Homo sapiens: one gene and its partners. The protein of the gene in region 1 interacts with the protein of each later gene in a biochemical or structural test. Each region holds a gene or a part of one and is shown in the gene's direction. Other genes may lie near its edges. The genes, in order: GOT1L1, PDZRN3, PARD3B, RHPN1, DLG3, PDLIM1 and PTPN3.

Region 1 (4,689 bases):
CCGGGCACATTGGTGGTGAAGGCCTTCTGGGTGAGACATCAACAGTGTTTGCAACAATCATTTAAAGAGTTATTTAACATCAGGCTGGGTGTGGTGGCTCATGCCTGTAATCCTAACACTTTGGGAGGCTGAGGTAGGCAGATCACTTGAGGTCAGGAGTTTGAGACCAGTCTGGCCAACGTGGTGAAACCCTGTCTCTACTAAAAATACAAAAAAAAGCCGGGCGCAGTGACTCACGCCTGTAATCCCAGCACTTTGGGAGGCCCAGGTGGGCAGATCACCTGAGGTCTGGAGTTTGAGACCAGCCTGATCAACATGGAGAAATCCCCCTCTCTACTAAAAATACAAAATTAGTTGGGTGTGGTGGCGCATGCCTGTAATCCCAGCTACTCGGGAGGCTGAGGCAGGAGAATCTCTTGAACCTGGGAAGCAGAGGTTGCAGTGAGCCGAGATCACACCACTGCACTCCAATGTGGGCAGCAAGAGCGAGACTCTGTCTCAAAAAAAAAAAAAAAAAAAAAGAGAGAGTCATTAAACATCAAAAGGAAAAGAAAGCAAGCAATATGCAGACTGACTCTATAGAGGCTGGCTCTTTTCTCCCCTTGGCCTCTGCTGTCTATACTTACTAGTTGGCTGTCATTGAAACTTAACAAATGGCCAGGTGTGGTGGCTCATGCCTGTAATCCCAGCAGTTTGGGAGGCCAAGGCAGGCAGATCACCTGAGGCAAGGAGTTCGAGACTATCGACAAAGTGAGACTCCATCTCAAAAAAAAAAAAAACCAAAAAAAGAAAGAAAAAGAAACTTAACAAACATATGTAGAAGTCTTGGCTCTAGATAACTGAGAGAAATAGGACTGGCTTAGTGAGTTGCCAATTATATTCTAATAATAGGATTCTTTATTAAAACAACTGTGGAAGAAAACAGTGTTTGCTTTTTATTCCTTTTGAAATCTGGGGCACTTTGCAAAATGGAAATCAATGCCTCGACTTGCATTGGTGTGTGATCTGGGGTTTTTGCTTCTGCAGGAGAAGCCCTATCTGGCTTATTGGCTGCCTGCCTTGCCCTATGTCTTTCTTTCTTTTTTTTTTTTTTAATTTGTATAAATGTGTGAAGTACAAGTGTAATTTTGTTAGATGCATACATCGCATAGTGGTGAAGTCAGGGCTTTTAGGGTATCCATAACCCCAACAATGTACATTGTATCTGTTAAGTAATCTCCCATTATCCTTGCCCTGTCATCTAAGGAGTGGGCTTGTTACTTTGGACTGAGCCACCTGGGGCTAGAGAAGAGAAGGCATTGAGTGAGGGAAACGGGCTTGGGAATTCCGGAGATTGTTATCCTGCCCTGCCCGCTGTCTGAGGGGATTCTCCTCAAGTACCCTGGAATGTTCCTGTGGCCCCTGTGGATCGCCACCACAAAGATCATGAGGTTCTGTTGCCCTGGCAACCCGTTGTCCAGCGCCTCTGCACTGGGGCTGCCAAGGTTCCAGGAAGAGGCAGGACTGCCCGGCCCAGCCTTGGAGGAAGACTTCTGGGCAGAAGCGGAACACAGGAGCAGAGACACATAGTCTTGGCTCCAGTTTCGTTTCAGTTATGCCCACCCTTTCAGTGTTCATGGATGTGCCCCTCGCCCACAAGCTAGAGGGCAGCTTGTTAAAGACCTACAAACAAGATGATTACCCGAACAAGATATTCTTAGCCTATAGAGGTAGATGCCTAGCAGTTCTGAAGTATAAGACTTAAGTGATGGTAACTGCCTCTAGGAGGACAGTGTTCCCTGCTGCAGGGGGAGGGGTGCAGCCCAAGCTTCTGTGGGTGGAGAGATCTTTTCTTGTTAACAGAATTACCCAGTGGGGAAAAGTGCAGATAAGGTCCCAGGTCATTCCATGCTCTCTGCCCTTCTCTGGGGGCTTCTAGGGATTTGGTGAGAGCTATGTCCTCTTCCACAACTCTATGCTTGGGGGCCTGCATGGCCATCCCACACTTCTTCAGATTCTTACCTCCTCTCTCTCTCTTTCTCTTTCTCTTCCTGTTCTTGAACCAAGAATGGTTCTCCAGATTGAGCTTTCTGCTATGCAACTGGGGCTCACCACTGTGAAAGTCAGGGTTACCTTTATTTAGCTTCATCTACCTATAACTCTCATTTTGCATATATATATATATATATATATATATATATATATATATATATTTTTTTTTTTTTTTTCTTGAGACAGGGCCTCACTCTGTTGCCCAGGCTGAAGTGCAGTGGCAAGATCTCAGCTCACTGCCACCTTTGCCTCCTGGGCTCAAACCATCCTCTTGCCTCAGCCTCCTGAGTAGCTGGGACTACAGGCGCTGGTCACCATGTCTGGCTGTTTTGTATTTTTTTGTAGAGACAGGGTTTCATCATGTTGCCCAGGCTGATCTTGAACTCCTGAACTCAAGTGATCCACCCACCTTAGCCTCCCGAAGTGCTGGGATTACAGGCCTGAGCCACCAATCCTGGGCTTGTATAATTTTTAACCTTTAAAATGGCATAGGTTTCAGTTGTCTTTTTTAAAAAGACAAAAATAATACACATTCACTAACAGCATATTCTTTTCATCAAGGAGAAAAGAAAAGGGAAAGTTGTATTTTCACAGGCACCTTCCCACAGCCCCATGGAGTCCAGGAGAGATTTGTTTGCAGGCTGTCTGCAGAGCTCAGCCCTGGGGGCCCAAACCAGGCATCTGGAGCTCCCTCTGTGGTTTTCCTCACAGTCTGCATGACAAATGAAGGCCATCCCTGGGTTTCTCTCGTGGTGCAGAAGACTCGACTACAGATTTCACAGGATCCCTCCCTGAATTATGAGTACTTGCCCACCATGGGCCTGAAATCATTCATCCAGGCCTCTCTAGCACTCCTCTTTGGAAAGCACAGCCAAGCCATTGTGGAGAACAGGGTGAGAAGGTGGGCCCTCCCCTGGCTCATTTAGACACAGAGAGTGGCGATCTGGGTCTGCACAACCTTAAACCCGAAGGGGACCTCGGAGGGCCCCCTGGTATTGATAAAAGAGATACCTGAGGCTCAGAGAGTCCACAAGTCCTTAGCCATCGAGTCAGGATCGGAATCTCAGTCCAGTGGTATTCCCACCTGCTCACACTGCTGATTTGAAAGCTCTTTCAAGACAGGAATGATCTGAATTGGAGGTGGTGTTAGTATTCCCATTACTGTTTTATTTTTTAACCTATTATATATATTTTTTGAGACAGAGTCTCACTCTGTCACCCAGGCTAGAGTGCAGTGGTGCCATCTCAGCTCACTGCAACCTCCACCTCCCAGGTTCAAGCAATTCTGGTGCTGCATCCTCCTGAGTAGCTGGAATCACAGGCATGTGCCATCACGCCCAGCTAATTTTTGTATTTTTTGTAGAGACAGGGTTTCACCATGTTGGCCAGGCTGGTCTCAAACTCCTGGCCTCAGGGGATTCCCTGCCTCGTCCTCCCAAAGTGCTGGGATTACAGGCATGAGCTACTGCGTCTCGCCTCCATTACTGTTTTAGAGTGTTATTTCTGTCTATTTCTTTTTATTTTTTAATGTTTATTTACTTATTATTTTTTTGAGACGGAGTCTCACTCTGTCACCCAGACTGGAGTGCAGTGGCCTGATCTCCGCTCACTGCAACTTCCGCCTTCCGGGTTCAAGTGATTCTCCTGCCTCAGCCTCTTGAGTAGCGGGGATTACACATGCCCAACACCACATCCGGCTAATTTTTGTATTTTTAGTAGATACGGGGTTTCAACATGTTGGCCATGACCTCGAGTGATCCACCCACCCCAGCCTCCCAAAGTGCTGGAATTACAGGTGTGAGCCACCACACCTGGCCTATTTGTGTCTATGTCTTGCTGGCAGGTAGGGGGTGTACACACTGTTGGTGACAGTGGTGCCTTCCAGCTTGGCGTCCAGTTTCTCAGAGCTTGGCATAAGGATGCTCGTATAGTTTACATCATCTCTTCTCAAAAAGGTTAGTCTTACCCAAGATGAGGGGAACAGCAATCCCCGTCCCTTGTTCCTAATCCTCACCCCATTTGCCATCTTCACTGTTATCCCTCATTCTCTGTCATGAGCAAAATGGCAGACAAGCCAAGCTATTTATGTCCTTTTCCTGTTAATGTCCCACCTTCAGCCAGTGACTCTCAGCCCCACACTCCAGTACCTCTGTCTCCGTCTCTCTGTTTCCCATGTACCAGCTAGTGGGGGGCTGTGTTCCCACAGAACTGCATGGACTCGTCTTCCAGGACATGGGCTTTACAGTTTATGAATACTCTGTCTGGGACCCCAAGAAGCTATGCATGGACCCCGACATACTCCTCAATGTGGTGGAGGTAGAGGGGCCCCGCTCAGAAACTCCTCCCTAGAGCTGACTTACAGCCTAATGTTCCTCTCCTCCCCACACCTCTTAAGTCATCCAAGACCTTTTCCAGGTTTGAATTTGCCTGGCCCTTCAATGGTAACTAACATGGAGGAGCACTTCACCCCCAAATGCCCTGGGGCCGCCACTCCTGGGTGGGGGTGAAGCCTGATGAGACCGTCTGTACCTGCAGCAGATCCCACATGGCTGTGTCCTTGTGATGGGGAACATTATCGACTGCAAGTTGACACCAAGTGGGTGGGCAAAGTTGATGTCCATGATAAAGGTAAACCCAATCTCCCACCCGACCTTCCTG
Region 2 (3,970 bases), on another chromosome or scaffold:
TCCTCATTTGAAGATAATATTTTTAAAGCATTTGACATCCCCTCAACTCGCATTGCCTGCTGGAGTCTCACTGGGAATGCCTTTCTTTGTCTAGGAAGTGGACCTCTACAGAATGAACAGCCAGGACAAGCTGGGCCTCACTGTGTGCTACCGGACGGACGATGAAGACGACATTGGGATTTATATCAGTGAGGTACAAAGGCTGATTTTGTTTTTCTAACTATCGTATCAAGACCAAAAGGGTTTTTTTTTTCATGTTCACCAACCCTAACCCACCTCATCAAGATCTCTTTGGAAAGACACAAATTATTCTGTCCCCCTCATCACACTCCATGGCGCTGCATCTTTCCACGGAGGTTAAGTTCTAATGCCAGTACTTATGGCAAAATTACCCTTGAGAAGCCTGCAAATCAGCCATAAAATGGAGCCGTTTACATGGTTTTGTGTGTTTAGCCCCAAGGGAAGAGCAGATTCACATTTCCCAACTCGTGTTCATTGAGTGGAATGGTGGATGGAATCACTTACACTTTTTAAAGCCTCTCTCTCTCTCTCTCTCACACACACACACACACACATTTTTTTTTCTCTTGGTGGAGTATATATAGTTGACTTCATATAAGTTAAATGTGACTTGTATGTACTTATCAAACTACATAGATGCACGCTGTTTTGATCTTCCTTGAGAAGATAATACAAATCAACTGATTTCAGTATGGAAACTTTACAGTGCACACCCATCCTTGCAAACACAGAAACCCAATTTTGTCAGGAAATAAAATTTGTCGCTACAGAATGATCTACTAGACTTAATAATTATCTCTTTGGTTGTATGTCATTCACCAAGCTTAAGTTAACCCATCCTTTCTGCATTTGGGGACATCCCTCCCCTTACCAGTCCCCCTTGTCCCAATTATATTTCAATTTTAAAGTTATTTTCCAAATTTTAATACAAGTATTTGGTATAAAATAAGGTATAGTTGCTAGTCCACATAATGAAGGGTATCCTTTAACCTGTTCTACATCATTGATTTGATTTTAATTACCATGCATGCAACAAAAGTCAGCTGTGCCTCCTCAGATCAGCAGAGCCTGCACACACTGCTGTGTAACAGGGTTGCTACACAGGGATCCAAGAACCAGCCCTAGAAAGGGCTTAGAAGCAGATCAGCTCATGTTTGCCTCTCCTTGCACGACACTAAGTCTTGTTTATTTCTGTGCAAAACAGAAACACAGGGGTGAGCATGACTGTGTTTTAGAAATGGTTTTGAAAGTGCTGTTGCTTATTTTCATGCATGTCTGCGTTTGCGCTGAGATGGTCCATGTGTGTTTCAGATTGACCCTAACAGCATTGCAGCCAAGGATGGGCGCATCCGAGAAGGAGACCGCATTATCCAGGTAAGTCCACTTCCAAACAATGGCCTCATGATGGGCCTATCACTAAAGAACAAACTGGTTCTAATGATAGGTCTAGGGTTGAAAATGCAGAAGCGGTTAAAGAACAGGGATCACAAACGCAGATGTGTAGTGAGGCCAGACAAGTTAAACTAATTGTGAGGCTATCTCTGAGTCATAAGACGCAAGAGGGAGTGGTGAGGACTGGGACAAACTAGATGGGGCATGTTCTCTCCAAAGAGGGCCTTGCAAAATTTGAGCCAGTTCTCCTTATTTTGTTTCATTCTGTTTGGATCAAAACAAACATCAGTGAGCCAAAGTCAGGCCAACAGTTTACAACTTGTGAACTAAAATAATTCTCGTTTTAGATTTCTCTGAAAGATTAACTTTGGACCAAGCATTTCAGAGGCTCGTCCATAAAAGGGGAACATTTTTGGCAAATTTAGCAGCATCGATTGAAAAGTCTTAGAAATTTTCTGACTCAACATCTAACCATCCTGGAATCGCTTCTAAGGGTCATTACTTGACCTCGAGCCCTGTTGCTCCGTCTAGTCCAAATGAGACCATTCATGTCTCTTTTGGCTACAACCTTCTTTAATCTCACAGAATTGAAATTCTTGGCTTCATTGTGTCCACAAGGCTTAGCTTTCTACCTCTTCTCATCCGTATCCTCTCATTCTTAATCCACTGTGTTTTTCTCATTGCATACCTCACCACAGGTCATTTTGATTTTCTTCTTCCACTGCCTACTCTGGGTTTCTCTAGCCTTCAGCCAGAACCTGTGCTGCTCAGGATCGCTTGCCCTAGGGAAGTGACCCAAACCTTCACACCTGAAGGGTCAGGGTCCTCAGCATACTGCCTCTTTTTTTTTTTTTTTTTTTTTTTTTTGATTGCTGGAGTTTTCCATTAACCTTTACTACTGAGAATGGAAGCACTCAGAGGTACTCCAAGGAATCCCCTAGGTTCCAGACACAATCCTCCCTGCCTCCACTGTGTCACAGCAAGCCCATCTTCCTTGGTAATTGAGGGCAATCACTCCAACCAATAGAGTCACCCCTTTTGCTGCCTGTTGGCTCACTAGTGTAAGGAGGCATATGGAAGCCTCCACTTCCAATTCAGTGGAACCATTGCTGTGTCCCCTGGAGGCGGCGTTCCACCAGGACTAAGACCTCCAGACCAGCAGGGCTCAAAGTCACCAGGACATGCAAGCAAAAATCCTGCAAGAGGGTTAATCAAGTGTGATAGTGAGAGTGTCACGCCCACTTGACCCTCCGCCTGGCCCAAAGAAGTTTAAGTGTCAAACTGGGGACACAAAACACCATGTATAATTCTATTCCATTTTCTTAACCTCAGTTTGCTGCTTTTTCTTCTATATTATCCAATAATGTCTACATATACTCCTGCCTGAATATTATGTCTAATTGCTTCCATGTTCCCTCTGCAGAGCATTATGATTTTTCTCAGTGCCGTCTTCTGGAGGTCCAGCCCCTTCTGTTCACACCCCACACATCACAGTCACCTCATGAACTATACTCATGGAGGCTCCCTTATAGACCAGAGAAACTGCATTGGTCTGAGCAAGACCTTTCCTTCCTAACATCAGTATTCTTTTCCAGCTACACGGAAGTTGTATGTTCTAACTGTGAGTGGGTGACAAATGCAGGTCTGAAATAAAATAGAATGATTTTGCACCATCTAATCATGCTATTTGTCTCCCCACTCTCCCCACCCCCCCTTTTTTTTTAAAAGATTAATGGGATAGAGGTGCAGAACCGTGAAGAGGCTGTGGCTCTTCTAACCAGTGAAGAAAATAAAAACTTTTCATTGCTGATTGCAAGGCCTGAACTCCAGGTAAATTGGCTTCCTACAGATGAAACTGGGTCTATATTTCTAAAATCAAAAGATCCCCAGGCCTGCAAAAGAGCACCTGAGTATTGGCTGCGAACTTGAAGGTGCTTTGTTCCCTGGAAATGTAATCAAACTTGCTGTGATTCAGAATTCACTTTATGAGTTAGCCATTTAAGGTTGGTTAGATGCCCACCCTGGCATCTATACTGCAGGCCCACGACGTTCATTAATGCAGGGATCATAGGGAAGGAAAAGGAAACAGAATTGAATGGAAAACACAACCGGGGTCACGTCAAGACATTTGACTTCCCAAGGCCTGACATATGTTCCAGCCTTGATCTGTGCAGGTTTCATTTACAATAGCAGAGTATGGGGAATTAAAACTTGCTCTTTCAAATTAAAAGAAACATTGAATGATAAATAATTAAAACTGATATGACCACCGAATAAGTGCTAGGCCCTCCGTGGAGCACTTTACACACAGGAGAGCCTTCCCAGGAGATGGAAGTTCCCAGAGATTCAAAAGTTACCCAGGAAAGGCCCAGAAGGAGGGTGATAAAGCAGGGAGGGGTTCAGGCCCAAGTAATCTGATTCAGAAACCTCTGTGTTGTAATAACTCCTTCCACAGGAGGAATCATGAACTCACCCAGGTGGCACTCTTGATCCACTTAGAATGGCTCCAGCAACACATCTAGGGCAATCCAGTAGTAGATCTCTTTAGGTATGTGTA
Region 3 (3,970 bases), on another chromosome or scaffold:
AATAACATTAAAAATGTGAAAGTTCCTTGTAAAACACCTAATGTATGAACGTGTAAATCATCAGTCTGATGATTATTTTGGCTAAAACCAAAAAGCCTGATTCAGAAATGTAGTTTTATTATAAGTTCATGGTTAACTGTTCAGTAACTTGGTGAAATAGTTCTATTATTTATTTTTTGCTATCCACCAGTATTATAGGAAGGAAATTTAATTAAAAAACATTAAAAATGCTATGGAAGTGGAGACATGAGCCAATAAAAGTTAAGGAGTAATGAGTACAGGCTGAAACAGCACGCTTAACTCAACCCATGTGTCTAGATGCAACTGTGTATAGAGCATGTCAGACAAGTGTCTGACTTCATAATGCCATATGGTTTCACTGTGTGAGCACAGGGGCTTCGTTAAGGTCATAGTGGTATACTTTGCTCTTAATTTCCTTCCATTTATTGGTTTGTGCCATTATTTTAAATTAGAATTTACATTTAATTTTTTTACTAAGATTACTGTAATTGGCTTTGCCTCCAATGTATTTTTTTATTTTTTTTTCTTTTAGAAAAATGTTGCCACACCTGTTGTTGAATAAGAAACCTAATCTAAGTTAGATCATCCTAATAAGTAAATTATAGTGGCTGCTCTGCTAGATAAAGCCTCAATGAATTCATTAGATACCATCGCAGAGGGGTGCTGAATGCTGCTTGTATTGAGGGCCATTGGCTTTCCCAGTAAAAACAAAGCAAACATAAAAAAAACACCAAAGTTCTTGCAACTAAAATGCAACTTAATTTTATTCAGATTTTTAAAATCAATGTGGTTTTTGTGAATTAAAAACATGAAATCTAATTCGTTTCAGTACAGATGCATAATATGCCTCAGTTTCATAGGGAAGACAGCTAAACAGGAGAGAGAAGGAGAAGGACTGGATGAAGGCTGATAAAGACTGTGAGAAGAGATGTTCAAACCAAAATTCTAAGCTGGTAGAGTCACTGAGGCTGTGTGACATTGGGAAAAGAACAGGAAGGGGGCAAGGAGAAGATGTTGGTGCCTAAATGATAATTAGAAGAGCAAGAAGAATTGTTACCCCTCTAATTCTGTGAGGCTGTGGATTTCAGCATCCTTTATCACTGTTCATTAATGCAAATTAACTGGTTAGTCTCGGCCTATAACTCCTCGACAGCATTAATCTTTAAATTCTGCGAGTCTTGGTCCCAAATGAGACAGCTACCACAGCCCACCAGTTCAGGGCAAAGAGGATAATGAGGTATTGTTTTCTGAGCCTTCTTGTATTGGTCTGGATGAAATCAAACTGGAGGGAATCTATCCCTTCCACGGAGCAGAGAGGGCAGAAGTGGTTTGTTGCCAGGGACCAAACTAATAAAATCAGTCAGTTTTACATTTTACCAAAATTACCTCTGACACATGGGTTTTACAGTTGGGCTTATTCTGTCAATAAATTTTTCATGGAAAGTTAGATTATTTAGATCAGTGAGGTTCACATAGCATACTCCAGCTGTAATATGCCAGCTAAATTGCAACCCAGTGGCCCGAAAGAATTAATTCATCTCCCAAAATGTGAAATTAAATCCTAGGGAGTAACATTACATGACTGATGATGTACTGAATTAAATTAAAGGAAGACTTGAATGCTTGTTAAAAAAATATCACTTACATAAACACGTTTATAACCACATGTGAGCCTCCTAATGAATCAAGTTATTGTGAATCCACCCTAACAAAAATCCAAAATGTGAACTCTTAGGATGCTGTTTAATTTAGGGAAAAAACCCATAAGTTTTATCTATTATTTTAATGTGTCAAATAGTTTCATTTTTAATACTGTGTTTCAAGATTAAAGTAACACAGAATATGACTAATTTGCTAACCTACTGGAACTAGGAAATGAACCACAAGACCCCACTGCACACTTGTGCCTATGACCCTGAGCCTTCCCTGCAGTAGATGGCATGGCTGTTTGCTGTTCTTTCTCCTGCAGCAGCGTGCTGTATTCATTTAACATTTTGAAGTGAGACCCAAATATCACTGCCATGCCTGTTGAGGTCTTGAGATGATGGGAGCTCATTAAGGGGACAGAGGTTCAACTCCGTGGCCACTCCAAACAGGAGGACTACTTTCTCTAATACTTGCATTGTAGATTCCCCTTTTCTATGGCTGACCCTGTTATTTACACATAAAATGTACTCATGTTTTATTTAGGTTTGAAATTTAATGTGAAGGTATTTTGTAATAGCACACATGGATTTTATACAAAAGAGAGTGACAAAGTCGAAAAGCAAGAGTATTGATAAAGTGCAGATCACAGTTTCTCCAAATGTAGCAGACTCCTCTTGCAGGACATATCTATCTTTCTTACTCTGGACACAGCTAAGCCTTGTCACATCACGAGGAGAAGGGAAATCCCACAAATAAGAAATAATGAAAATATGTATAAGTTCCATTTCTTACGGTTTTTGGTTTAGTTTTGGTTTATATATGTAACAGAATTGTGTATGTATGTGTGTACACACACACACACACACACATACACACACACATATTTTAATTCTAGTGGCTATAGTTTTCTTTCTTCTTTCCTTCTCTTCCAACCCTCCTGATTCTAAGCTACAGCCACAAAAATCCAGAGGCCTCTTTGTATCCTCTCTAATTTAGCCTCTTCTTGGTTGAAATTTTGGACAACTCTTCCCAAAGCCTGCCTTCATCATGTCGCTGCCCTACTCGGAAGCGGGGTCTGCTAGATGCCCCCCTCCAGGTCCATCAGATTAAGTTCATTGGCTGTTTGTTCAAAGCCTTTGTGTGTGGCACTGGTCTCCCATCTAGTTAGCTCTCAAATCTTTGAAGGCTCTAGGCTTGTTAATGTCTTTAGTTTTTGGACTTCAGCTGTCCCCCAAATGTATAGTGAAATTACCTGGTCCTGGTCCTATGACTTTGTCTCATACTCCTCCATCCTGATCACACAGGAAACACCCAACACATACTTGATTTGGTAGCACCAACAAATGGGATCCAGCTTCCTTCTAAACTGAGTAATATGATCTGAGCTTAAATGTTTCTTTACTTCTTAAAATGCAAATTTTTAGAATAGGTAGTAAGACTGCAAAAATGTTACTGTGAATATCCTAATGCTCTCCCACTGCTAAACATCACGTTGCCACGTTGGCACTAACTCAGACTTACTATAGTCAGGTGTGATGCCCTTCTCCAAACCACAAGTCTTTGGTGTCAACTCCAGTAAACTAGCCTTTCAATAAGTTTACTGCAAGCATGAGAAATGAAGTCGCAGATTGATGTTGGTACTTATGCATATTTATCTAGAAGGGCTTTTTCTCTTGTAGTCAGTTTTGGCTTTTTTTGGATTAGGGATTAAAATAACAAACAGTTGCCTGAATATAAAGTAAAATTTCTTTTGTAAATAGAAATCAATATGTATTTCTGAATAGTTGCAAGTGGAGAAATAATTAGCATTTATTATTCAGTAATTATATTTCAATCTAAATTTTGCATTTAGGATTCTAGGACTCTTCATCCGAGGCATTGAAGACAACAGCAGGTCCAAGCGGGAGGGACTATTTCACGAAAATGAATGTATTGTAAAAATCAACAATGTGGATCTCGTAGACAAAACCTTTGCTCAGTAAGCATTTTTTCATTGTTTTATTTACTTTCTTGATCCCTAGCATGGTTATAAGCATTACTGAACTCATTATGATCAAAATAGTAGGTAGAATTTCTAGTCAGTTCCCTTTGAACGATCCAGGATATCCATTTTCGAATGCTTCTAATGTTTTAGCCTACTCAAAGGTGGCCCACACATGTCTCTGGCAGGTCTGAGAATGCTAAACTACAGAATATCACAAGCCTTCCTGCCTGGCTGTCTTTACTGGGGCGTCGTTGAACGGGTTTGTTTTTCTTGGGCTATGGGTCACTTAAACTGGTATTTAACGGCTCTTTTCACAGA
Region 4 (3,970 bases), about 110 Mb from region 1:
CGCTTCGAGAACCATTCCCAAAGTCAGACCGCAGCCTCTGCACCAACCATCGGGGGCCAGTGGCCGCCCCCAGAGCCTCAGGGACCCTGTCCTTTGAGCCCACGCCTAAACCCACATGGGAATGATTTGGAGGCGTGGGTGAGTTGGATGGGAAAAAAATTGGGAGGGGCAAGGGGGGGATCCAGAATGAAATCCAGAAGCGCAGAAGGAAGGCTGTGAGGAGCAGTGGGCCGCCTCCTGCAGGGCTCCCGGAGCCCCTACTTGTCCAGGCTGCCTGGTGAGACCCTGGCTTCTGGTGTCCTTGGCAGGTGCCAGCCTCCCCCGCTGACCCCCATCACGAGTCAGCAGCTTACCCCACCGACCACGTCCTTCTGCATTGACTGCCTCCTGTCCTGCTCTGGCCAGGCCTGTGTTCACACTAGTTCTGTCCAGCCCCTCCCTGTGAGGCCAGCTCCAGCCCCAGCGCATGGTGACCATCCCGTTACCCATGGGCAGGATGCACTCCTCTCAGTGGCTGGCGAGGCGCAGCCTGGTGCGGGCGCCACGGGGTCGGGCTGTGATCGCCTGTGGCCTCCCTGCAGGGCTGTGACTCCCTGACGCAGATCCAGTGCGGCCAGCTGCAGAGCCGCAGGGCCCAGATTCACCAGCAGATTGACAAGGAGCTGCAGATGCGGACGGGCGCTGAGAACCTCTACAGGTCAGTGCTTGAGACTGCCCGGCCCCGGGAGCAGGGCCCACCTGGGTGAGGGGGGCAGGACAGCCACGCAGGCAGATGTCTGCCCCATGGCCGGGTCACAGAGACAGGTGCATGAGCAGCTGGGTCCTGGTGGGCACGTAGTACACGTGATGCTCAGCCATGACCCTCACAGACCTGCCTCCGTGGGCCTCTGTGCTGGGCTGGAGGTGCCAGGAAACCAGTGTCCCTGCCGGGTGTGCAGCTTGGGAAGCCCCAACAGTGCACGTGGGGGCTTCTCAGAAGAGGCATGGTTGAGGCTGAGCTGTGGCAGGTGATGGCGCGTCCCAAGGTTGGGGACCTGGGAGGGGGTGGAAGACCTGGGCTGCCTCTTCCTTAGAGCACACCGCCTGTGTGCCACACATGTGCGTGTGAGTGCCCCTCGGTCCCCTTAGCACCTGCTACCTCCCTGCCCCCATCCTGGCCTTCCCTGGGGACCTCCGGTCCCTTTGCCAGGCCCTGATGCAGGCACAGAGAGGTGTGTGGCTCTCACCCACCATCCAAGGAGTGATGTTTGAGTGCTGTCGAGGGCTGTATGAGCCCCAAAGAAAGCCGTGGTGCTGAGGGAGGTGCCCCCAGGCCAGAGTCGGAACATGCAGGTGCTGGGGTCGGGGTGATGAACTGTAGGGGGCATCACCTGTGAGCCCCCGGATCCCACTGCTGCCCCTGCCCCACCCATGGGGGGCAGACCCTGTCAGCGACGTCCTCTGCAGGGTGGGCTTGGAGCTTTGACAGGTCAGCTGGCAGGACGGCTGCAGTGGGCACGGGGCCTTTGGCTCTGCCTTGGGGCTGGGCTTTCAACTGCCGCGGCCTCCCTCAGAGCCACCAGCAACAACCGGGTGAGAGAGACGGTCGCCCTGGAGCTGAGCTACGTCAACTCCAACCTGCAGCTGCTGAAGGAGGAGCTGGAGGAGCTCAGCGGTGGCGTGGACCCTGGCCGGCATGGGAGGTGCGGGTGGGGGCCGGGACAGCACGTGCGTGTATGTGTGTGCACGTGTGCGTGTGTGTGTGCATGTGTGTGCACGCATGTGTGTCTCTGTGTGTATATGTGTGCATTGTCTGTGTGTGTGCGTGTGTGCATGTGTGTGCATGCATGTCTGTGCGCGTGTGTCTGTGTGCATGTGTCTGTGCATCTCTGTGTGTGTGCGTGTGTCTCTGTGTGTATATGTGTGTGCATGTGTGTGCATGCGTCTGTGTGCGCGTGTGTCTGTGTGTCTGCATGTGTCTGTGTGTGCATCTCTGTGCGTGTGTCTGTGTGCACGTGTCTGCGTGCGTGTGCATGTCTGCGTGTATGTGGGTGTGTGTTTGCCTCTATGTGTGCGTGTATGCACGTGTGTCTGTGTGTGTCTGTGTGTGCGCGTGTGTGTGTCTGCACGTGTGTGCATATATGTGTGTGCGTGCGCATGTGTGTCTGCATGTGTATGCACGCATGTGTTTGTGTGTGTGTGTGCGCGCGCATGTGTGTGTCTCTGTGTGTGTGTGTTTGCTTTTGGGGCGGTTTAGGACGGTGGGGGGTGGTGCACAGGTGCAAGGATGCCCCCCAGGACACAGGCGCACGTGCACACCCATGAGGGAGGGAGGCACCCTGTGCCACAGAGCCCTAGGAGTGGACCCCGGGCTGCCGTGGGCAGCAGGGTTTGGCCTTACAGTCTGAAGTCGATGCTTCTGGTTACAGCGAAGCTGTCACTGTCCCCATGATCCCCCTGGGCCTGAAGGAGACCAAGGAGCTGGACTGGTCTACACCGCTGAAGGTAGGTACTGGCCTCCAAGCTCTGAGATACACGGCCCTGCCCTGGGACCAAGGGGGTCTTGGAGGCTTTCTGGTCCAGCTGTCTGGTTGAACAGATAGGGAAACTGAGGCCCAGAGGGAGGGAGGCTTAAAAGGGACGCAAGGGACCTGGCAGAAATGGCCACAGGGACCCAGCCTCTGCTGCGTTCAGGGCCCCGCTGGTGCCTGCGCCCCAGGCCGGGGCTGATCCCATAGAGTGGGTGTGAACATGTGCCCTACCCTCGGATGGGCAATGCCCTAGGAGGATGGGGCCTGGAAGCCCCAGCCGGAGCACAGGGTACAGGCTCGCCCATGGAGGGCACCACTGGCTTGGGGCCACACACCCAGCACTGGCTCACGAGGGTCCTGGGGAGAGCTAGAACAGACTGGCACTGCCTGGCAGGGCCCCACGGGAGCCACTGACTGTGTTCCGTGTCCGAGTCACTGAGTGGCAGATGGCACCTGCCTCCCGGCCACGGGGATGAATAAGGAAACGCACGTAAAAGTAGCGCTGAGTCTCCAGGCCCCGCTTCTGTGATGGGGTGGGGAAACCCCAGGGCCACAGGGGCTCCGACCCGCATCAACCCACCAGGCCCCTCCATACACATTGGCCCCCAGCCCTTCTCTGGGGCTTCCACTGAGGGGCCCAGGGCCCCCACGCTGCATGGCAGCCAGCCTGCTCTGCGGCACAGACCCTCCCTCCACCATGAGTCTTTTCCCAAGGTGGGTTGGGAGACCTCAGGGAAGGAGGCCAGGCACAGGGGTACTGTGGATGCCAACACCTGCCCCCCATCAGGAGCTGATCTCAGTGCACTTTGGAGAGGACGGCGCCTCCTACGAGGCAGAAATCAGGGAGCTGGAGGCCCTGCGGCAGGTGTGTGGTTCCCCCGCCCACCCACCCTCCTGCAGCCCTGGGAGACACATGCGGAGGCTGAAGCTGAAGTCAGGAACAGACAGAGGAGCTCAGCGTAGACATCTCGAGGACGTGGGGAGACGGGCGCACCAGGGGCCCTGTGTGTCCAGACCCAGCCAGGGGGCGTGGAGGGGCTCCCAGGTGGCTCCGGTGCCGCATGCTGCTGGCCTTCGGGAGTCACGGCTGCCCAGGGCCCCACTGGCTTTGCCTCCCCGCCCCCCATGGTGCTGGTGCCCATGGGACTTCCCAGGGCAGTGTGTGTGAGTGGGGTGGGCCAGGGCGGTGGGGCCCAGTGGCTCCTGCCCTGCAGGCCATGCGGACCCCCAGCCGGAATGAGTCGGGCCTGGAGCTGCTCACAGCCTATTACAACCAGCTGTGCTTCCTGGATGCGCGCTTCCTCACCCCTGCCAGGAGCCTCGGGCTCTTCTTCCACTGGTAGGGGCTCTGCGGGCGGAGGCACCCTGGGGAGGGGAGGCCCAGCTGCGGGAACCGTGGGAACTCCACCCAGCCTGACCCAACACTGCAGGTACGACTCGCTTACTGGGGTCCCGGCCCA
Region 5 (3,970 bases), on another chromosome or scaffold:
AAACTTCTAACATCCCTACAACATTTTCTTGTAAACATAATTTTCCTCTTACATCAACTTTCATTTAATCTCATAGACTCCATTTGTGAGAGATGGTCTTTTATTTAGCTCACCGTTGTCTCCATTTTAGTTTTTCTTGCATGCTTTAAAATCCATTGTTCTGTTTTTTTTTTTCTTCTGTCCTTCCCCTCCATCTTCATGTTCTTTCACAGTCGATCAAAACGAAACGTAAAAAGAGTTTCCGCCTCTCTCGAAAGTTTCCATTTTACAAGAGCAAAGAAAACATGGCCCAGGAGAGCAGCATACAGGAACGTAAGTAGCAGCAGAGTCCAGAGAGCAGGCCATCTGCAGCCCCATCCTCTCATCCTCAGTTGCCCTTCCCTCGAGAGAAGCCTGGGCAGGGCCACGTGTGGCCTCGTGCCTGCCTGTGTGCGTGTGCACCTGCTTATCTACAGAGTCAGGGCAGAAACTGGTCTGCCTAAGGAGATGTTGGGTTTTATTTGTCCTGCTCCTCAGTTAGAATGAATGTTGGAGGCACTGAGGTGGGACTGGTCCCAGGGTCAGCCTCCAGGAAGTGCCTGGCACTAGCAGTGGAAGTGCCAGACAGAGCTCTGCTGTGGTGGTGAGGAACGGTTTTTTAGCTAGACTGTCAGGGTCAGGAAAATGGTTTTTCAAGAGAACAAGGTCTAGGGACTCAGTGTTGCTCTCCTGGTTTCTTCCTCTTGTGTTTTCTTTCCCTTAACTTCACTCATGTATGTCAAGAGAAGAGCCTTTTCTTCCCAGGATCCCTGGAGTTGGGGCTACTTCTGGAATCCCATGCACGTGCATAAGCATACAGGATATCCACACAACTCTCAGCAGACTCGCTGTCATCCTAGAGTGCCTACAGAGCCAGTTTTCCCAGGAGAATCCTTCCTGCTTAAATGAGTTGACATGGAAGGAGTGTTGCTCCACATTGTTCAAATAAAGATCTATTGAGAAACACAAAGTTGGTTCGGTAGGAAGAGCAGTCACACTGAGCTAAATTCAACGGAAGAAGAAATTTAATCCTGATAAATCTTCTTGCTCTACCGTGTGCCTCAGCAATTAACTGCTCCAACCTTAACCTTAAACACCAGGTCTGGCTTGAAAAATGTCTTCTCACTTGTCTCATCATGAACAGTAAACATCTCTCATTTACCAGTGACTCCTCTGTCTTACATGGAGGGATCTTGGGGTCTTGGTCTATTGGGGCTGGCAGGAGACTGACTGGTTCTGATAGGAAATGTCCTTCTGTCAGGCCAGCTTGGTCCACAGTCATGGTATGTGTAAGTCATTGCTATCTGGGGTGGTACCTGGTGGACAGAAGGGTGCCCTCATCTAGATGGCAGCCACGGCTCATCATCCTGGAGTAGTTCAATGAGAAGCCATAGACGGGGTGGCTCTGCTCATGAGCAGTTAGGAGACAGTCTGAGTCAGAGGCCTGAGGTGATGTCACCATAGTTTCATCAGATGAGTCCCAGAGTCCCTCCATGCCAAGCCCAGCCTGGGGAGGTGTTCATTGCTCAGTGGTCCCGCCTGGTGGGCGAGGGGGTATCTACTGGATGACAGAGTTGAAGGTGCCTAGTGCTTCTCCAGAAGCTGAGCTCATCCCCCAAGATCTGTCCAGCTCAGGGCAGCTTTGGAGGCCACACTCTACACCATGCGAAACTTTTCCTGAAGGGTTTGAACAGAGTGAATCAGTATTGGGCAAAGGCTTCTTGAGGTGATGGCAATTCTATCTGCCTACCTGGCACACGCGGACATTTGCTCTTTCACGCACTGCAGAGGGAAATGGTGATTTCAGGGGCAAACAGAGACCTGGGCTCCACAACCAAAATTTAGTCAAAGCAGGTGCTCTAAGCCTTGGAGTGTCACCTGTCCTGTCCCATTGGCCTACAGCTGTAGACACCTCAGAAAGCTAGTCTACTCCAAGGCCCTCTGGCAATGAATTGGGCAGCATGAAGTCTTGATGTCTTATCTGCCCTGGGATGTTCTTTCTGTGGCAAAGTTCCTGGCCTCACTATAGTGCTAGGTCTTCATGGTGTTTCATAATTCTGTCACTAGTGCTCACCTACCTCTGTATTCTTCCTCCCCCCTTGTCTTTTTCTCTATTTTTTCTCTTCTCCCCAAATCTCTCCCTCTCTTCCATTCCCTCCCATCCCTTCCCCTTCCCCCCTCTTCTCCCCGTCGTCCTCTCTCCGCCCTTGCTGTCTGTGAAATCAGGACTTCCCGGGGTTAAGTGACGATTATTATGGAGCAAAGAACCTGAGTAAGTCCAACTTACACACCGTTCACTGTACTTGTGGCATGAATGGAGATAGTGGGGGTGGGGCTATTGGGGACATGGGTGAGGGTGAAGGGTGAGGGGAGGGCAGTGTTTGTGAGCACTCTGACATCACAGCAGGAAGAAGTGCATGTGGCTCCATATGTTACATGTTTGCTATGGATCCCTAGTACCCAAATAAGTCCATATCATTCATGCCTTTGTTTACCTTTTGCTACTCAAAGTGGGAGGGCGTGAGCATGGCATCCCACCTTAGAAGTGAAGTAAGCTTGAAATGTTTCTCCAAGGTAACCACTCAGCTAATCTCTAGCCTATTGTCGAAGGGAGGGGTGCCTGCTGGTTGGATTCTTCTCCCAGTGATACCACGCTAAAGAATTGGGTGTAGGAATTGCAGCTGTTAACAGTCCTCTAACTAGGGGCAAGGGTACTGTGACCCCTTTTTCCCAACCTGCATCTGAGATGTCCCAGCAGATCCCGGGCCTCAGCAAACAGCCACTGTTTGGCTTCCCACAGAGCACCTGTAAGGGGTTGAGCTGGTCTGCTAGGGGCCTCAGCATCATTTATGGACCATATATAGTTAGTGCTTTATCTCAGGAAAACTCCAACCTCATTTTCCTTTCTGGAAAAGAATCCTGGAGTGGAAAATGAAAAAGACCTAGATGATGAGGCCTTAGTGGCCATCCTGCTGCGTGCAAGGGTGCACAGACACCAAATGGGTTCTATCAGCATATACTCTCCTTCAATAAATAATACAGACCAAAGGCAAAGGAGTTGCCCATGGGGATTGTTCAGGAACTAGCCATGTGTGGCAACTCAGCCAGTCCTTTCTGGGTGGGGGGGCCACAGCATATCATGGTCTGGAACAGTGTGGTCTTGGCTGAAATGAGCAGCATCTCTCTCCATAGTTTGGTGTGTCCATGTCTCATCTTCATTCGCGTGTCATCTTGGATGGGCGGGCTTTGTTTGTGCCTCCTACGAGCGCTGCTCCTCCGCCTGAGCTTTCTTTTCCCTCACCACTAAGAGATGGGCAGATCCCAGCTGTGTGAGACAGGAGGGCTGCCTTGTCCTCAAGGTGTTTTTGTTGGTTTTGTTGTCTGTGTTTTGACATATGTGTCTGGTGGTGGATGGAGATGCTTCCCCTCTCACCACTGAAGCCAGGCTCTCCTGCTTTGGAGTGGTGGCAGGAAGGCTGGGGAGCCCACCGAATGGTCAGAGCAGCGCTCCCTGGTGTCTGCTTAACCCATCCAGCGTTTGGCCTCTTAGTTGTGGAGTGCCACATGGTTCTGTACTTCAGGGGCTCTGTTGGGCGGGGGACACCCATGAGCAGACTGGTCCCTGGACTTCTCTTTGCTCCTGTCACTGTCTTTTCTTTCCTGTTGTTAGCCTTGGGAGATGCATTTTGAAATACGATTTGGAAACCATCCAGGTCAATTTGATTCAGATGAAGAGGATGCTGCTGAAGGAAGTATGGCTTGTAGTACATAGGGAGGGACTTGGCAGACCAAGAGGGCTCTGGGGACAAGTACGAGAGGGCCAGGGGCTCAGGATTGGAGCTGTGCCTCCCAGTTGGTAGCCTGGATGTGGCAGGCCTCTGGTGGCCTGACTCAGTTGGCAGCTCAGTGTCTCGCTCCTGGAGCATTTGAGTTTTGTGCTGCATGTGACCTC
Region 6 (3,970 bases), on another chromosome or scaffold:
AGTTAATCAGGCAGAGGTAAAGGCAGGTGTGAAAGTCCTGAGGCCCTGTAGCTGGAGCCCAGTGGGGAAGAGGCATGATGTGGGTGGGGAGGGAGGCACTGGCTTTAGCGGCCTTGTTAAAGATTTTGGATTTCATCCTAAGGGGACTGCTCTTTGAAACTGCTAGATTTAGCTATGATAAATGAGTTCCATAAGGCATTATTCTCCTTGATTCAGGCTGCTCTCCTTGGAGTTAGAGTTTGTCAGTCAAGAACGCTTGCCAATCCCAAATAAAATGATGCTTAGAGCCGTTTAAAAACTGAGCCTGCGTTGTCCTTTAGTAACAGTGAAGTGTGTATGAAGATGCACCAGATCAGTCTTCTCAGGACAACAGGTCAGAAAACGGAGGAATTTTTTTTTATTGCATGCACTGGATGACTCAGAAGCTAACTCTCATTGTTGACTGAAATGAGAGCGGCCTGTGCTTGCCTGGATAAAAAGTCCTGTCCCAGTGGCTGGATGAGGGGACGATCTGAACCTTGAATCAGGAGGCTGCTTTCGTTTCCTAAAACCCAGATCTCTGGTAAACAAATGATGGGAGAGCCAGAAAGGAAGGTTAGGAGGTCAGGATCTCGGTACTGGTTTCCACATCCTGCCACATTCCAGGAGAGTTTTGCCTGATAAAGTCATAGCATGTGCGGGCCAGAAGGGACCTCAAGGATCAACTTGTCCTCATTTTTTGGGGTCAGGGTGCTGATGGGGAATGCACCATAATAGCGGCACCACACTAGCTGCGCTGAGGGCTAATCGGAAACTGTAGCTGCTGAAAACTGCATCAGATACTGAGGTTTAGGACCCAACTTGTGTGTCCTGGTTTGGTGCCTTGAAGAACCTGTTACCTGTGGTTCAGCCATAAGGAGACACCCAGGTGTTCATAAGATCTTCCTCAACTGGATCCCGAGAGTCAAGGGCCTTCTCCAAAGGGTGGCCAGAGCCCTGTGGGCACTGGGAGCCTGGGGGTGTTACTGCCACCTTGATCCTGCGGACTTGGAATTCCCATCCAGGAAGGTCTTGTAATGTGGAAAAAAAAAGTTGTGAACTTACCCTGGGATGATGACAGTAATATTTTTAGTATACCTTAGTTTAGAAAATCTAACCAGATACCTTGGTTAGAGATAGTACTCTGAGGTGAGTACTATTTCAAAATGAGTTTGGATCTTGTTCATTCTAATAGCATCTGTATTCACTTGAAAAATGGTTGTACATCAGTGTAGGAGATGTGATATGTATTGAGTCCGCATGTATTGCTCTGTAGGCAGGTGAATTTAAGGACCTATTGCAGTAATTGATTGGCTTCCCCCAAGCATCAATGATCTGTCAATTTGGAACCACTGGTTTTAGAAGCATCAGTCTGCAGAAAACCAGCCGTCTATAGGGAATGACCCTAGTCATTTTGGGAGATTAAACCAGTATAAACCTATACTACCATACTTTAGGATATCCTTGATTGCTTTTAACAATTTTTTTTTAAATTTTTATTTTATTATTATTATTATTTTTTGAGACGAAATCTCACTCTGTTGCCCAGGCTGGAGTACAGAGGCATGATCTTGGCTCACTGCAACCTCCACCTTCTGGGTTCAAGTGATCCTCCTGCCTCAGCCTCCTGAATAGCTGAGATCACACCCGGCTAATTTTTTTGTATTTTTGTTAGAGACAGGGTTTCACCATGCTGGCCAGGCTGGTCTCAAACTCGTGGCCTCAGGTGATCCGCCTGCCTTGGCCTCCCAAAGTGCTGGGATTACAGGCATGAGCCACCATGCCTGGTCAACAATTTTTTAAATTAAAAAGTAATTCAATATTATTGTAAAAAACATTGCAAAACTGTATAACTGTGAACAATTTAGTGTGCAGTGTTTCCACTTTCTTTTGTATATATAACATTATTAAGATTTTTAAAGAAATAGGGTATTATAGTATATAATGTTCTCTAAATGTGTGTGTGTGTGTTTTTTTAAATGTAATTGTTAACTAATTTTAAGGAAGCAAACGTGGTTCAGTGGGAAGGACATCAGATCTGTTCGGGGTTTGTTTCCTGGCTCAGTAATACACTAGTTGGAGGACCAGTAATATAATAATATACTAGTTGGGTGATCCTGGGTAAGTCATAGGTCTTTCTAAGCCTCAGATCCTGGTCTTGGAAATGGGGACTGCTATTTGTCCTCCTTTCTCATAAGGTTGCTATAGGGATACAATGAGATCATATTAGAAAAGCCCTCTTTGTCAATGATAATATAAATGATTGTTATTATTTAAGCTATGATTTCAGCCCTCTTTTCTTTTTCAGGGCTTTGCTCCATATCAGTGAATACTTAACTTGGTGGTAACTTAGTGGTTTGGAGACAAATAGTAACTAGCCTGCTTTCCCCTTTTTTTCTAGGTCACTCCTGGAAGCAAGGCGGCTCTAGCTAATTTATGTATTGGAGATGTAATCACAGCCATTGATGGGGAAAATACTAGCAATATGACACACTTGGAAGCTCAGAACAGAATCAAAGGCTGCACAGACAACTTGACTCTCACTGTAGCCAGGTGAAGCCTATGGAAACGTTTTGTTCATTTCTGATTGACTAGAAGCTGTTTGTGGGCAGGGACTGCCTTCCCTATCTCAGAATCCCCCAGACCTCCTAGCTCAGTGCCATGTATATACTATAGGCATGCCAAAAGGTCTGTGGAATTTGAACTTCAGATTGCTTATTTCCCCTCTATTTTTTTTTTTTTTTTTTTTGAGACGGAGTCTCACTCTGTTGCCCAGGCTGGAGTGCAGTGGTGCAATCTCAGCTCACTGCAACCTCTGCCTCCCGGGTTCAAGTGACTCTCCTGCCTTAGCCTCCTGAGTAGCTGGGATTACAGATGTGCACCACCACACCCAGCAAATTTTTGTATTTTTAGTAGAGATGGGGTTTCACCATGTTGGCCAGGCTGGCCTCGAACTCCTGACCTCAGGTGATCCACCTGCCTTGGCCTCCCAAAGTGCTAGGATTACAGGTGTGAGCCACCGTGCCCAGCCCCCCTCTGATTTTCACGGTGCTTATGATGTGGGCTTCTTTCAGTAAGATACTTGCATTTTCACTTGATCCAACTCAACCAAAATTTTGAGTAAGTAAAATGTCCTGGCCAGGTGCGGTGGCTCTCTTTGTAATCCCAGCACTTTGGGAGGCCGAGGCAGACAAATCACTTGAGGTCTGGAGTTTGAGACCAGCCTGGCCAACATGGTGAAACCCTATCTCCACTAAAAATTAAAAAATTAGCCAGGTGTGGTAGCGTGCACCTGTAGTTCCAGCTACTCGGGAGGCCGAGGCAGGAGAATCACTTGAACCCAGGAGGCAGAGTTTGCAGTGAGCTGAGATGGCGTCACTGCACTCCAGCCTGGGCGACAGAGCGAAACTCCATCTCAAAAAAAAAAATGTCCTTAGGATGCTGCTGCTACTGCATTGTGCTGAGCAGTGGGTACCATGCCAGGAGATTGCAATAACAGAGAAAAACTTGAACACATTAGCAGCAGAGTACTGAGTGTAACTTTAGGTACATGACAAGCAAGGAGCGCTGGGGATAAAAGAATGAATGAGGGTAGCACCTTGGGAGCTGTAATTAGGGTAGAATTTCCATTCTTCTTTCATTTAGCCTTGGAAGGGGTCCCGCAAAGGCAGGATTTCGGAAGTGATTTGGTTCAACCCTCAGTTGGCTCCCTGTTTCCTACTGCATCAAATTCAGATGTTTCATTCTGATCACCTGTTATCTCACTAACCTTAGCTGCCACAGCTCTTTGTCATGGAGCCTTTGGTTAGATTCTCATCTGTGAAGTATGTTTTTTGCTTTTTTTTTTTTGCTTTGTGGCACAGGACTGGCAGGTGGATCGAGTGTGGGGGAGTATATAAAAATATTTTGTACACTTCAGAGACCTACCCCATGAGAGGTACACTGTGTTATT
Region 7 (3,970 bases), on another chromosome or scaffold:
TGCCCCTTTTGTCATCTGTGTAGGCCTCCTAAGAAGAGCATTTGCTTTGTTTTTCTTTCAAATTTATTTTATTGTTTTTAGGCCAGGCATAGTGGCTCACACCTGTAATCCCAGCACTTTGGGAGGCCGAGGAGGGTGAATCACTTGAGGCCAGGAGTTTGAGACCAACCTGCCTGGCCAACAGGGTGAAACCCATCTCTACAAAAAATACAAAAATTATCTGGGTGTGGTGGCACACAGGTGTGATCCCAGCTACTCAGGAGGCTGAGGCAGGAGAATTCCTTGAACCCAGGAGGCAGAGGTTGCAGTGAGCTGAGATCACGCCGCTGTACTCCAGCCTGAGCGACAGAGTGAGACTCTGTCTCAAAAATAAAATAAATTTATTTTATTGTTTTTAAAATAATATCAAGTAATTTTTTCGTTTAATTTTTTTATTGTGCATACTCAAGGTGTACAACATGATGTCTTGTTATACATATAGTACTGCAGTCAAACAAATTAACATGTTCATCACTTTCCATAGTTAACCTATTTTTCTTTTTTAAGAGACAGGGTCTCGCTCTTGCTCTGTCACCCAGGCTGGAATGCAGTGGTATGATCACTGCAGCCTCAAACTAGGCTCAAGCGATCCTCCTGCCTCTGCCTCCCAAGTCGCTGAGACCACAGGTGTGTCCCACCTCACCTGGCTCCATAGTTACCTTTTAATCATCTGCTTTTTTAAAGCAGTAGGAGTCACTGTGCCTCCTTACAGTGAACCACGTTGGGATTTTACTCTGAGGTAGTCCTTAAGCTCTTGTCATTTAACTTTTGTTACTGTTTACAGTTTCTGTAAATTCAGAAGGCTTTCTTTCCTGTGCTGTTCAATTCATTGCTTCTCTCCATAATGGTTTTTGCCTCTGTTGTGAAGCTTACAAAAGCTTTCACCTTTGCAAGACAGATAAATACTCACCTCTAGCTGGCAAATCATTTCCTAACAGTACATCTAGGAAACAAAAGGCTGGAAATGGTATAGTTATATTATAATAAGTGAAGGTTGACTACCACGGAGAAATGGCTTCAGCAATTTTTATATCCTTATTCTGAAATGTTTCATAACTTATATTCTGAGCAGTACTTCTTTATATCTTACAACCATCTACCATGTCCACATAGCAGTGGATGCATTATACAAATAATGACAGTACTACCCGAGGGAGAGAAGGCAAACTTGATCATGGTCCCAGGTGTCTGGGAGCAGAGCGAGTCAGCGTTCTTCCCCCAAGGACTGTGTTATGGTAACAGGAGAAACTCGCTTTTCCCCACCACCCAGGCGGACACCTGCATTCCTAAGCTGAACGAAGGGGATCAAATCGTGTTAATCAATGGCCGGGACATCTCAGAACACACGCATGACCAAGTGGTGATGTTCATCAAAGCCAGCCGGGAGTCCCACTCACGGGAGCTGGCCCTGGTGATCAGGAGGAGAGGTAATGGCCACCTGGGGGGAGGAGCCATAGGGAAGCTGTCCTAGCCAAGCTGCGCCTGCTCCAGCCCTTTATCTGCTCTTGAAAATGTTGAGTTTGTAGCCAACATTTGAAAATCAAGAATCTTCAGGTAATAACCGAATGTTTGGCTTCTCACTTGAAAAATGTGAAGATCTGCCCCCAGGAGGCCTGTCCCCATGTGGCCAGTCTTCTGGGGGGAGACAGCGCCCCTGCAGCCCCTTTATACAGGACATGAGCCCCCAGCTCCCAGTTCCTCCCAGGCCCAGCGCAGCCCACATCACGCACTCTCTAAGTGGCATGACTCTGCAGACATTTGCATTTTCAGCCCCTTCTTAAAGGATCTGGTGATATTTTATTCGTGCGTGTTTGATTTTGTCGGGGAGGCAGTGAGGAGAGCAGGGTCTGACTGTCTCGGGTGATTCCTCACTCTGCCTCTGCGGGCTGGGGGACCTTGCAGGGGTTACATAACCAGTCTGTGGTTCAGCTGGCTCAGGTGTGGAGGAGGACAGCAGTGGTCCCGACTTCACAGGGTTGCTGTGAAGATTAAATGGCACTTGGGGCCAGGCACAGTGGCTCACACCTGTAATCCCAGCACTTTGGAAGGCCAAGGTGGGTGTATCACTTGAGGTCAGGAGTTCAAGACCAGCTTGACCAACATGGTAAAACCTCATCTCTGCTAAAAATACAATAGCCAGGCATGGTGCCATGTGGGTATAGTCCCAGCTACTCAGGAGGCTGAGGCAGGAGAATCGCTTGAACCCAGGAAGTGGATGTTGCAGTGAGCTAAGACTGTGCCACTACACTCCAGCCTGGGTGACAGAGTGAGACTCCATCTCAATCATTCAATCAATCAATGGCACTTAGACTGGAAAGTACCTGCATTGCTGCCTGATGGGAGCAGAGGTTTGAAGGACAGCCTCTACTGAGCATCACACTGTTGTCTTTATAGTTGTTGTTATAAAATAATACGTCAAGTTCCTTGAACACCGTGCACAGCTGTAAAATACTGAAAGTAAATGAAGGTTGTGTCTGCAAAGCCCTGCGTCTCTGCCTGCCTCACACGTTTGGCTGACACTCCATACTGCTGTGCTCCTGCCTCGGCTCTGCTCCCACTGCAACTCTCAGTCCAGAGCCACCAGGACCAGCTCTGACCCCACCTCCTCCGTGAGGCCTTACCAGATCTCTCCGGTTCCCCACCTGTGCAAGGTTGGGAGTTGTGGGGGGGTGGTCCTAGCTTTGCTTTCACCTGTATTGAATTTAACATGAAGGGAAAACGTGCACTAAAGAGGTAAGGCTGAAGCACAGAAGAGATGCTAGGACTACGATATTTACGTGGGAGCCTCCCACATAGAAACGGCCCTGAGTTAGGGATTGAGCTCTCAGGAATGATGGTGTCACAGGAAAAGCTTGGGACCTCACCCTCATGCCTGAGGAAATGCCCATTTTAGGGAAGTAAATGAAAAAACCTGAGAAAGAAAGGGGAGTCGGGATGGGTAGAAGAATAACCCGGTCAGAAAGAGCAAGCAGAAACAATATGCTTTTTTAAATAACATTCTTTCTCTTTTCTTTACCTTTGACAAAAGCCTCTGAGTGTTAAACACCATTATTTAAAACTAACCAGGAAGATTAGTATGTCATTTTATGTAATTAACACATATTGAATCATTCACCTAGAAGTAGTATCTTTGGTGAAAATGATTACCATGTAGCTTAATCATTTAATAAGATGTTTTGAACCATCTGCATTCAGGTGTCATAGGTGTGATTTGTTTGAGGGAGACGGATAAACCTGAGTATTGCTACACAAGTCAGATGCACTGTCTTGTACGTTACAGCTGTCCGCTCATTTGCTGACTTCAAGTCTGAAGATGAACTGAACCAGCTTTTCCCCGAAGCCATTTTCCCCATGTGTCCGGAGGGTGGGGACACTTTGGAGGGATCCATGGCACAGCTAAAGAAGGGCCTCGAAAGCGGGACGGTGCTGATCCAGTTTGAGGTAAGACCCTCTGGAGGCTGAATCCCACTGCCATGTCGCCTATTGGGCTGCCCCTGCCTCTGAGCAGTGGAGGAAATGAGGCAGAGACACAAGCCCTTGTTTCCTTGGTCGAGATGATTGTGTGTTTCACAAACCAAAAGCAGTCAACTGAGTCTCTGAGGACTGACAGGGCGAGGCCTGTGCTTGTCGTGGATAACAGGGCACAGCAGGCAGCCCCCTTCTCAGGCTCGGAGCAGCAAGCAGGGATCAGGGTGGCCACCCTCGCTGAACTCTGTCTCACCCTCTTATTCTAGTAACATTTGGTAGTCATGGAGAAACATGCCAGAAACTGAGGAGGAGGGACTCTGAGTGTATTTAACTGCCAACACAAAAGCTCAAAACTCCCAGCAGTGGAAGGCAGTGGAGAGGTGGCTGTGGGTGAAGGAACCAGCTCTCTGACCACCCCCAGCCATGTGCTGGAATTTGGAGCAATTAGTGTTATCCCATGAGG

Evidence for each region.
Region 2: the proteins of GOT1L1 (region 1) and PDZRN3 interact in a test that uses a peptide from one of them, tested with the Homo sapiens proteins (one large-scale study listed by IntAct).
Region 3: the proteins of GOT1L1 (region 1) and PARD3B interact in a test that uses a peptide from one of them, tested with the Homo sapiens proteins (one large-scale study listed by IntAct).
Region 4: the proteins of GOT1L1 (region 1) and RHPN1 interact in a test that uses a peptide from one of them, tested with the Homo sapiens proteins (one large-scale study listed by IntAct).
Region 5: the proteins of GOT1L1 (region 1) and DLG3 interact in a test that uses a peptide from one of them, tested with the Homo sapiens proteins (one large-scale study listed by IntAct).
Region 6: the proteins of GOT1L1 (region 1) and PDLIM1 interact in a test that uses a peptide from one of them, tested with the Homo sapiens proteins (one large-scale study listed by IntAct).
Region 7: the proteins of GOT1L1 (region 1) and PTPN3 interact in a test that uses a peptide from one of them, tested with the Homo sapiens proteins (one large-scale study listed by IntAct).

The regions. Positions count from the first base shown.
Region 1 is NC_000008.11:37,936,935-37,941,623, reverse strand, and holds the start of GOT1L1 (putative aspartate aminotransferase, cytoplasmic 2), read left to right. Parts: upstream 1-1,499; 5' UTR 1,500-1,594; coding exon 1,595-1,709; intron 1,710-2,742; coding exon 2,743-2,924; intron 2,925-3,874; coding exon 3,875-3,986; intron 3,987-4,237; coding exon 4,238-4,347; intron 4,348-4,566; coding exon 4,567-4,659; intron 4,660-4,689.
Region 2 is NC_000003.12:73,387,241-73,391,210, reverse strand, and holds part of PDZRN3 (E3 ubiquitin-protein ligase PDZRN3), read left to right. Parts: intron 1-94; coding exon 95-193; intron 194-1,332; coding exon 1,333-1,395; intron 1,396-3,141; coding exon 3,142-3,243; intron 3,244-3,970. UniProt on the Homo sapiens protein: E3 ubiquitin-protein ligase. Plays an important role in regulating the surface level of MUSK on myotubes. Mediates the ubiquitination of MUSK, promoting its endocytosis and lysosomal degradation. Might contribute to terminal myogenic differentiation.
Region 3 is NC_000002.12:205,115,401-205,119,370, forward strand, and holds part of PARD3B (partitioning defective 3 homolog B), read left to right. Parts: intron 1-3,520; coding exon 3,521-3,646; intron 3,647-3,970. UniProt on the Homo sapiens protein: Putative adapter protein involved in asymmetrical cell division and cell polarization processes. May play a role in the formation of epithelial tight junctions.
Region 4 is NC_000008.11:143,374,972-143,378,941, forward strand, and holds part of RHPN1 (rhophilin-1), read left to right. Parts: intron 1-581; coding exon 582-697; intron 698-1,553; coding exon 1,554-1,682; intron 1,683-2,408; coding exon 2,409-2,484; intron 2,485-3,297; coding exon 3,298-3,375; intron 3,376-3,724; coding exon 3,725-3,849; intron 3,850-3,940; coding exon 3,941-3,970. UniProt on the Homo sapiens protein: Has no enzymatic activity. May serve as a target for Rho, and interact with some cytoskeletal component upon Rho binding or relay a Rho signal to other molecules.
Region 5 is NC_000023.11:70,493,164-70,497,133, forward strand, and holds part of DLG3 (disks large homolog 3), read left to right. Parts: intron 1-212; coding exon of another isoform or gene 213-312; intron 313-2,244; coding exon 2,245-2,290; intron 2,291-3,970. UniProt on the Homo sapiens protein: Required for learning most likely through its role in synaptic plasticity following NMDA receptor signaling.
Region 6 is NC_000010.11:95,270,234-95,274,203, reverse strand, and holds part of PDLIM1 (PDZ and LIM domain protein 1), read left to right. Parts: intron 1-2,419; coding exon 2,420-2,571; intron 2,572-3,970. UniProt on the Homo sapiens protein: Cytoskeletal protein that may act as an adapter that brings other proteins (like kinases) to the cytoskeleton. Involved in assembly, disassembly and directioning of stress fibers in fibroblasts.
Region 7 is NC_000009.12:109,403,958-109,407,927, reverse strand, and holds part of PTPN3 (tyrosine-protein phosphatase non-receptor type 3), read left to right. Parts: intron 1-1,309; coding exon 1,310-1,466; intron 1,467-3,319; coding exon 3,320-3,480; intron 3,481-3,970.